Regions from separate parts of the Homo sapiens genome. Here region 1 is linked to region 2. The links come from fine-mapping of genetic effects on gene expression. A gene starts in region 2. The other region holds a variant in brackets. All regions are shown on one strand. Distances are between the middles of the regions.

What was found. PIP is the estimated chance that this variant, and not a neighbour inherited with it, causes the effect.
Region 1: its variant is the best candidate, but not a certain one, in a credible set for the expression of ANXA3 in pituitary (GTEx, PIP 0.66).

Annotation. Positions count from the first base shown.
Region 1 is chr4:78,587,556-78,591,951 of GRCh38, forward strand. ANXA3 (annexin A3) reads left to right here. Exons shown (of 13, transcript NM_005139.3): 7 at 3,989-4,068. Among named protein-coding and RNA genes, the nearest start is that of ANXA3, 38 kb to the left of the region's middle. The variant T/C (reference allele first, on the strand shown) is at 2,264.
Region 2 is chr4:78,549,762-78,554,157 of GRCh38, forward strand. It overlaps ANXA3 (annexin A3), which reads left to right and starts at 2,009. Exons shown (of 13, transcript NM_005139.3): 1 at 2,009-2,098. RefSeq lists enhancers at 2,374-3,125, 2,429-3,628.

The sequences.
Region 1 (4,396 bases), 38 kb after region 2:
TTTCTCTGTTTGTGTCTCACAGAGGTCAGTTGTGTCATAGCAGCTTTTGCAGTGGGAGAGGTCCAAAGAAGGAGTACATATTGGTCCTCATGTAGGTGTTAAAGAGGATGCTTTGGGAGATTCTTGTTAGAAGGTAAATACCTCAATGTCAGGTGACTGTTTTGTTATTGATGTACCAATTGGGTTCTAATCAGAAAAACAGAAACAGCACTAGGTATTTTGACAGATAGAATGTAATATAAAGAACTGCTTAAAGGGCCGGGTGCGGTGACTCACGCCTGTAATCACAGCACTTGGGGAGGCTGAGGTCAGCGGATCACAAGGTCAGGAGTTCGAGACCAGCCTGGCCAATATGGTGAAATCCCATCTCTACTAAAAAATACAAAAAAAGTTAGATGGTCATGGTGGCGTGCACCTGTAGTCCCAGCTACTCAGGAGGCTGAGGCAGGAGAATTGCTTGAACCCAGGAGGCAGAGGTTACAGTGAGCCGAGATGGTGCCACTGCACTCCAGCCTGGGCAACAGAATGAGATTCCATCTCAAAAGAATTGCTTAAGCTGGGCACAGTGGCTCATGCCTGTAATCCTGGCATTTTGGGAGGCTGAGGTGGGCAGATTGCGTGAGCCAAGGAGTTTAAGACCAGCCCAGGCAACATGACAAAACCCCGTCTCTATAAAAAATACCAAAAATTGGCCAGGTGTGGTGGTGCACGCCTACAGTCCCAGCTCCTCAGGAGGCTCAAGTGGGAGGATCACTTGAGTCTAAGAGATTGAGGCCACAGTAAGCCTTGATCATGCCACTGCACTCCAGCCTGCGTGACAGAGTGAGACCTTGTCTTGGAAAAAAAAGAAGAATTGCTAAACACCTTTCAGAGGACTGAAAAAGCAAAAAGGGAACAAAAGGATTCATGCAGGTTATAACCCCCCAGACCTGAGACAACAAAGGAAAGAGGTTGAGGCTATCAGAAACTGGAAGCTAGAATGAGGGACATACCTGGCTGATGTCGGGACCTCAGGGGCTCAGAGCAGAGGCTTAAGGAGCAGGAGTTCAGATCTCTGAAAAGAGGGCTCCATCTGTAGGTACTGGAGCCAGTACCTACACGGGGGTCAAAGTGACTTTTTCTAGGAAGCTGGAGCCAGTTGCTGCTGTCGGGGTGAACAGCCTTCCCTGGGTTGACACTGACATGACTAGCCGTCAGATAGCTTGCACTTCTTTCCACCTCCTGCCTTCCAGTCCCCTCTACTCCCCAGTACTGGTGGAACCTAATAGGGAGCGGGTACAGACAGAAGTAGACAAGAGAATTGCTTAATCATTAATGCACAAAAGAGTATGTTTTAGGTGTTTAAAATATTTCAGTTCAACAAGGTTTACATATTTTACAAAACCCATCAGAACCAGGCACTGTTTCCCAAGTTGGCTTGGTATTTTCTGGTGTTTCTTAGAAGAGCCACTGCTCCCCAAGTGGACCTGCCCTGTGACAGATCCCTGGAGCCCAGCATTTAGGTACAAACAGTTCCAGGATGTGAGCTTTATGAGGATGAGGATTTTCGTCTATGTTGTTCACTGCTGTATCCTCAGTTCTAAGAACAGTGGGGCAGATAAGTGCAAATATTTATTAAATGAGTGTCCTCAAAATTGAGGTTAAGGTCTTAAGAGCCAAGTGAAACTTTTACCATTCAGGATAGTGTTGTGCAGATATGACAGATGATAATAGCACAAAGTTACCAGAGCCTCAATTTCTATGTGAGTAATGCTCTCTGAGGCTACAAAGGATACAACTGCATCAAGGTTACCTTGGTTACTAGAGATTAATGATACACAAGAAGATCAAGAAGGAAATTGTCTCAATCATGCATAGCCAAACTTTACAGAGATTAAAGTCACAGCACTACCCGAGGGACCCAGTTATGTTGTCACTCTCTCGGCAGCAGGCATCCATTGCTCCCCATGCTAATGTTTTCCGTGACAGTAACTGCTCCTCTTCCTTTTTGCTTCTAATGTTCTTGACACCAGCAAGTAACATCCCCTCCCCTACCACATGGTGTTTGTCTACCCAAGGCTTATAAATATTTGTGCATAGCTTTTGGTTATTCTTGGCTACTGTTTTCTTCATTATTTCCAGGAGTCTTTTGGTTCTTTGTTATTCTATTGTCTTTGTCTCCTTTTCTGTGTCACTCGCTCCCTAAGAGAGAAGATACAATGGGTTCAGGAAGTCACTATCATGTTGGCCCTCATAAAGGGACCAGATGTCTTCTACAGCTTAT[T/C]CAGTACAGTGGCACAATAGAGTCTAAATAAAGAGAGATCTAAATTCTTAACTTTTTTCGGTATTCTAAAGTCAATGGTGTGTGAGAGAGAGAACACTGAAACAGGGATCAGGGACTCAAAGTTCTAGTCCAGGCACCTGTACTATTAAAATATTCTATTTGATTTTATACTCTACTGTGCCTCAAAATGGATAAAGTAGTTGTCAACTTAGGTTGAAATAATTTTTTACTCTAATATCCCACAAAATATTTGAAGGAAAGGGAGAGGCTGTGTGAAATGACTTATAAAGTCTCATCTAAATAATTCCAAAATTACAAAATACTTCCCCAAGTTCTAAGAAATGGGATATTCATTCTTCTACTTGATATTTTCAAATTTAAAGTTTTTTATCTAACTAGAATGAAGGATAGATGTAACAATATCACAACCATTAGGTTTAATGATGCCTACTAAATATTATTATTTAGAAAAATAACACACTTTTTTGGTGGATTTTGCTTATATGAATTGCTTTGAAAAGTTACAGATTTCATAAAAAAGAGACTTACTAAAATCATGCTGAAGAAGTTTCCATCTCAGCGCAGTTCTTGCTATTGGATAATCTCATATCACTTTCTATAATTGTCTTTCATTGATTTAAATAGATGAGAATTCTCATGGCTAGTATGGCTAATTTATAGAATTCTTGAGAATGGTGCAGACAGTTCAGATAGCCACATGGTGTCACCTACAACAAAGGGTATAGTGGCTCCAAGAGAATCACCACCCCATGGATGGGGCAGACAGAGATTTAAGACTGATGGGCACTGCACATCACAGGCCATGCAAAAGGGGCTACAACTAGTCAGTACTAAAATATATGAACACACAGTTGGCATTTGTAAAGGGAAATGGCATGTTTTGGGTAGCTTTCTTACTTTTGGGAGATACGAAAAAATATGGTTTAATTATATTCATTAAGATTAGGGTTAGATTCGATAAAACAGAAAAATTACAGTGGCTTACAAAAGGTAGAAGTTTATTTCTATCATATGTAGAAGTCTAGACATTGGCAATTCTAAGTCTAGTATGACAGCTACTCAAAGCTTTTAGGAACTCAGACTTCTTCTTGATTACTTTTATGCCATCACTAAGAAGTGGTCCTTATCTTCACAGTCCAAGATGGCTGCCCAAGATGCAGATATCAGTTCACATGTAAGGCAGTTGGATGGAGGAAGGACTAAGATGAACATGGCCTCATCCCTTTAAGGAGATTTGTCTGCCTTCATTTCATTGTGAATAACTAAGTTATAGAACTGTACTAGCTAAGAGGAAAGCTGAGAAAGTAGTTTTTAAGCTGTGTACATTATATCTTGCTTAAGGTTAGGGTTCTCTTAGTATGGAAGATGGCCAGAATGGAAATTGAAAGGCACACTAGTAGCTCATCCACCCCAGCTTTTCCACTATGCATCCCTTAGTGCCATTGTCAGATGAAATAAACCAAGATTTGCTCCAGAATGACAACTCTTTCTATTCTTTTGCATCTACCACAACACAGTGCAGTAAGAGTTACAAGAAGAATGTACCATCTCACAACAGAAAAGCATGAAGAAATTAAATAAAAGGGCAAGATTTATCTTATCACATACCCATTCTTTGCTAGTGTTGGCATTTAAACTTTTCTCTGTTTTATAATCATATTTTTCAGTTTGTCAAGGCTTAATTTCATTCTGATTTGGTTTCAGTATACAAGAAGAGTCTTGGAGATGACATTAGTTCCGAAACATCTGGTGACTTCCGGAAAGCTCTGTTGACTTTGGCAGATGTAAGGTTTTATTTTTTATTTTTTAACTCCCCAGTAAGCTGCATGCTCAATAACAATTTTTAGGGAGTTTAAAAATAACCAAACTGAGACAATGAGTTCACAATTTTCCTTATGAAATGGTTTGTTCATTTTACATTTTCATTGCCACCAAGCAATATAATGTTTAACCAAGATCATAAAAGCATACATAATGATGTAACAACAAAGAAAACTTATTTGAGTCAGTAAGTGGAGGTGTTTTGGTCAGGTTTCACAATTTTGACATTAGAAGACATTCTGATACATCATCTGACATACAATATTTATTTCCATTATAAGTGTCTCCATT
Region 2 (4,396 bases):
AGCCTACATGTAAAACATCACCTGTTACTCATTTTCTTCTGGCTATAAATCTAGCCCTATGACTTCCTAGTTGCCTGGAATACAACTCGTAGAACTTACTGAGTCCCTCTGAGCCTGTGTCTGTATCTGCAAAATAGAGGCAATCATACCTAATTTACAGCTAGTTGGTAAGCATGACATAGATCACGTACGTCAAGTGCATTACCCAGTGTCTGGCACAAATAATAATAAATATTTTCCCCCATTTCATGCTAATCTCAGAATTTTTTGAGGTAACATGGGATTTAACAGTTTATTGTGGTGAAGTCTGAATGGGAGTCAGGAATTACTATGCAGAACAGAATGCAGAACACCATCCTATCTTCTCTCTTGCAGAAAGCCCATCACTTCGGATTTGTAGATCTGAGAGGGCTCCCAGGGCACTGGCCTTTTAAGCATGACCACTTCTGCCTTCTCCGTTGTAGCTCCTCTTAAACCAGTGGTTCTCAAACTTTAGGATGCATCAGAATCACTTGATGGCGCAGGGTTTCAGGGAATTTGCATTTCTAATGAGTTTCTAGGTCCCAGGACTCAGCCTTAAGGACCAAGACTGTAATCTCTTCAACTCACACTCAAGCAGCTCCAGCCATGCTTATCCTCTAAAAATCCTCTGTGCTCCACCTGTTCACCCTACCTCCTCTCAACTCCTAGAAACCAGTGATTTTTTTTACTGTCTCCGTAGTGTTGCCTTTTCTGGAATGTCATATAGTTGGAATCATAGTGTGTAGCATTTTCAAATGGGCTTCTTTCTCTTAATAATATGCATTTAAGTTTCTTCCATGTGTTTTTATAGCTTGATAGCTAATTTCTTTTCAGTGCTGAATAAAATTCTATTGTATAGATGTATCACAGTTTATTTATCCATTCACCTACGAATTACATCTTGGTTGCTTCCGACTTTTGATACTTAGGAGTAAAGCTACTATAAACATCCATGTGCAGGTGTTTGTGGAGGTAAGTTTTCAAATCCTTCGGGTGAATACATAAGGGGCCCAGTGATGACTGAGTGCAAGCAATACTTTTTACTTACGTGGTCTCGGATAAATCACTTCACTTTTCTAAGCCTCAGTTTTCTCTTCTGCAAATTGTGATAAAAATAGCACCTCCTAGAGTTCCCTTGAAGATAAAAGAGGTAAGGTATTCAAGCACTTCAATGCCTGATACTCAATACATGGTAACTTTTTCTACATCCTTCAGCACACAACTGCTCATAATTCCCTCATACGAGTAGGGCTTTAACCTTTTAGCCTCGATGATTTGTTTTGCTCTTCCAAATGCCTAGAATGCCCTTCCAGGTTACCGTCTCCCTGAGCCTTTGGTTGGAATCCTCATACCAGAGGGTCAACACGTTTAGTAGAGGAATTACTGAAATAGTTGGGTTCCAAACACTAGCTCTGGCATTTACCTTCTGTGTAAATTGGCTGAAGTTACCCAACGTCTCTGTATCTCAATTTCCTCATCTATAAAATGGGGATAATAGTATCTACCTCATAGAGTTGTTGTCGGAGCCATTTTAATGGCAAAAACCGCAATTACTTTTGCACCAACCTAATAAATCCGCGCATATTCTTAAAGAAGTTAGAACAGTGCCTGGTACAAAGTAAATGCCAGATCAATGTTATTAATGTTAGGTGTCCGCCACCTATGCCACGCAGTGAGTTCCTTAGGTATAGGGACAGTCTAATCTCCGAATCCACACTGCCTAGAACAAAATAAGCATTGCAGTACATTTGAGAAAGTAAAGGTGTAGTGGAAACCGAGAGCGAAATGAGGGCGTAGGGAGAAAAGGGTGGGGAAGCTTAGAGACCGGTGAGGGAGCAGAGCTGGGGCGCCTGTGTACAGGGATAGAGCCCGGCGGCAGCAGGGCGCGGCTTCCCTTTCCCGGGGCCTGGGGCCGCAATCAGGTGGAGTCGAGAGGCCGGAGGAGGGGCAGGAGGAAGGGGTGCGGTCGCGATCCGGACCCGGAGCCAGCGCGGAGCACCTGCGCCCGCGGCTGACACCTTCGCTCGCAGTTTGTTCGCAGTTTACTCGCACACCAGTTTCCCCCACCGCGCTTTGGGTAAGTTCAGCCTCCCGGCGCGTCCCCGCGAGCCTCGCCCACAGCCGCCTGCTGACGGGTGGCTTGGGGAGGTCGCGGCGCCTCGCCCAGTTCCCCCGCGAGTGCAGCTCGACCCTGGGCAGGGCTGGCGGCTGGCGCCCGCGCCCGGCCCCAACCCAGCTGCGTGGGTGGGGAGCTGGAGGGACCTCAGTCCTGCATTTCAGAGTCGAGGAGACTGGGCCCACGGGGGGGAAAGTGCCGTGCCATGGGTGGGTCACCCAGGTCTTGGTGGGGCCCAAGCTGATACTCAGCTGTCCTCGCTCCCTGAAAGCTTCGCTTATTACAGCTAGCAGCGTAAGGGATCCACTTAGCCATCTCGGCCTCCCCAGTCCTAAAGGTCTAGGGGACAGAAAAAAGCTGGGAGTCGGAAGGTTCCTCGGGTCCCCGGCATGGCAGACGGGGCTGGCTCAGAGGTCTGCTCTGTGGACTTGGAATCGCACCCATCCTGTGAGCATCTTCTCCCCCTCACATAGGCAATTTATTTTATTTTACTTATTTTTTTTAGAAGGTAGAAAACAGTGGATTTGCATATTGAGGGTTGGAAGTTCAAGAAGTTTGCTTTTTCCTGAAAAGACTAACCGTTTTCTTTGCAACAGAATCCTATTGACTAGATATGAATCATTCCCTTGGTATTTGAGTCACCAGGTGGAAGATTTGGATACTTGATTGCAGATGACCATATATAGGAAAGTATGCAGGTGCTGGGAGGTTCTGGGTCGCTGGAGGCCCCTCTGGCTACTGATACGAAATTGCATAGCCCAGGCCGAATTCTTTCCAAGGATTTGTGTTCAGCACTGACAGCAAGACCCTGCCCTCCGGGAAAGATACATTTACTATGTTCACCAACATCATTTTTTAAAATGTAACTAATTAAAACGTTACTCCATGAAGATACCACCTTTGGTTTTCACGAAGACGGAAAACTTCAGACTGACCAGAAAGGGAATTTTTAAATGTAAAGAAAACCAGAATCTTGTTCCCAGAACTCTGTGGTTGTGTAGAGAAACCTGTTTAGAAATAACCGTAGAGGAGGAAGTAAAAGGAAATGATGTAATCCCTTTCAGGAAAGGATATATTGAAATTCTGTTTAAGTCATTTGGCCTTCGCTGTGGAGTAATTCTTTACATCTTAAAAGTTAAATGATAGATTAGTAATAATTCTTAATAATTTTCCAGTTCTGCTGGATCAATGCATATTAAGTGTCAGATTTGGTCAGGTGTGGGCCAGGCAGCAGATTAAGGCAGAAGCATGGGGGTTAGGTTCATACCTTTAGAGTCTAGCTGCCTAGATGCAGTAGGGGTCCACTCACTAGCTGTGTGACTGTGGGACATTACCATACCTCTCTGGGCTCCAGCTTCTTCATATGCAAAACGAAGATGTAATACCTAACTCACTGGATGATTGTGCGGCTTGTATTAAATCATTCATTTAATCAATAAGTTTTTTTTTTAAATATCTACCGTGCACCAGTGCACACAGATAAGAAGAATCTCCAGCCCTGTGAAACTGACCTCGTTCAATGCTGGCAACACCCCCTTCTTCACTTTTTACAGATGAGGAAATTGAGGCCCAAAGAAATTGTGTTTAGCTTTAAGAGGCAAAATGAGAACCAATAATGCCTTGTTTTCACTGTACAGATGGTTTGACTTCTGATTTTTAGACTTCAGAATAGTTTATCTGGCTGTAACCCCTCATAAGTCAAAGAGCATGTATTTAGAGAGATGCAGTATTAGACTCTAACTGGAGAGTTGACTGCCCTAGGCTACAGAGAGCCTGAAAAAACCAAGGTGAAATATTTCCAGAGACTAATAGTGTAATTTCCCATTGAACTTTTCTCTGGGGGTGTCAGGGAATTTTTAGAATATTTTGTTCCCAGGAAGGGTGGGAGCAACTTGCATTTCTAAATCAACCCTGGAGATATGCCAGCATGTTTGAATAATATCTATTTAAGAAAAATGTGTCTGGCTTCCCAATCAAAGAACTGTGCCTTTCACCTCTGCACCCCACCAAGGACTGGACCACCTCCTCAAAGAGCAGATGTGTCTTTATAACAGACTGTAGGCTTGGAGCCTTGTAAAATGTACATGGAGTTTCACAATCAAGCACAAGGAATCCAACTGAAGGCAGCTAAACTTTGTGTTGATTTGGTGAGGAGGAGTAAAATCCTGTGTTTTTGTTGTTATTGATCCCCGTAGTGGTAGCCTGTCAGTAATCAGCAGAGTTCTCCTGGACTTTAAATAAGTCAAAAATTGGCTTTTC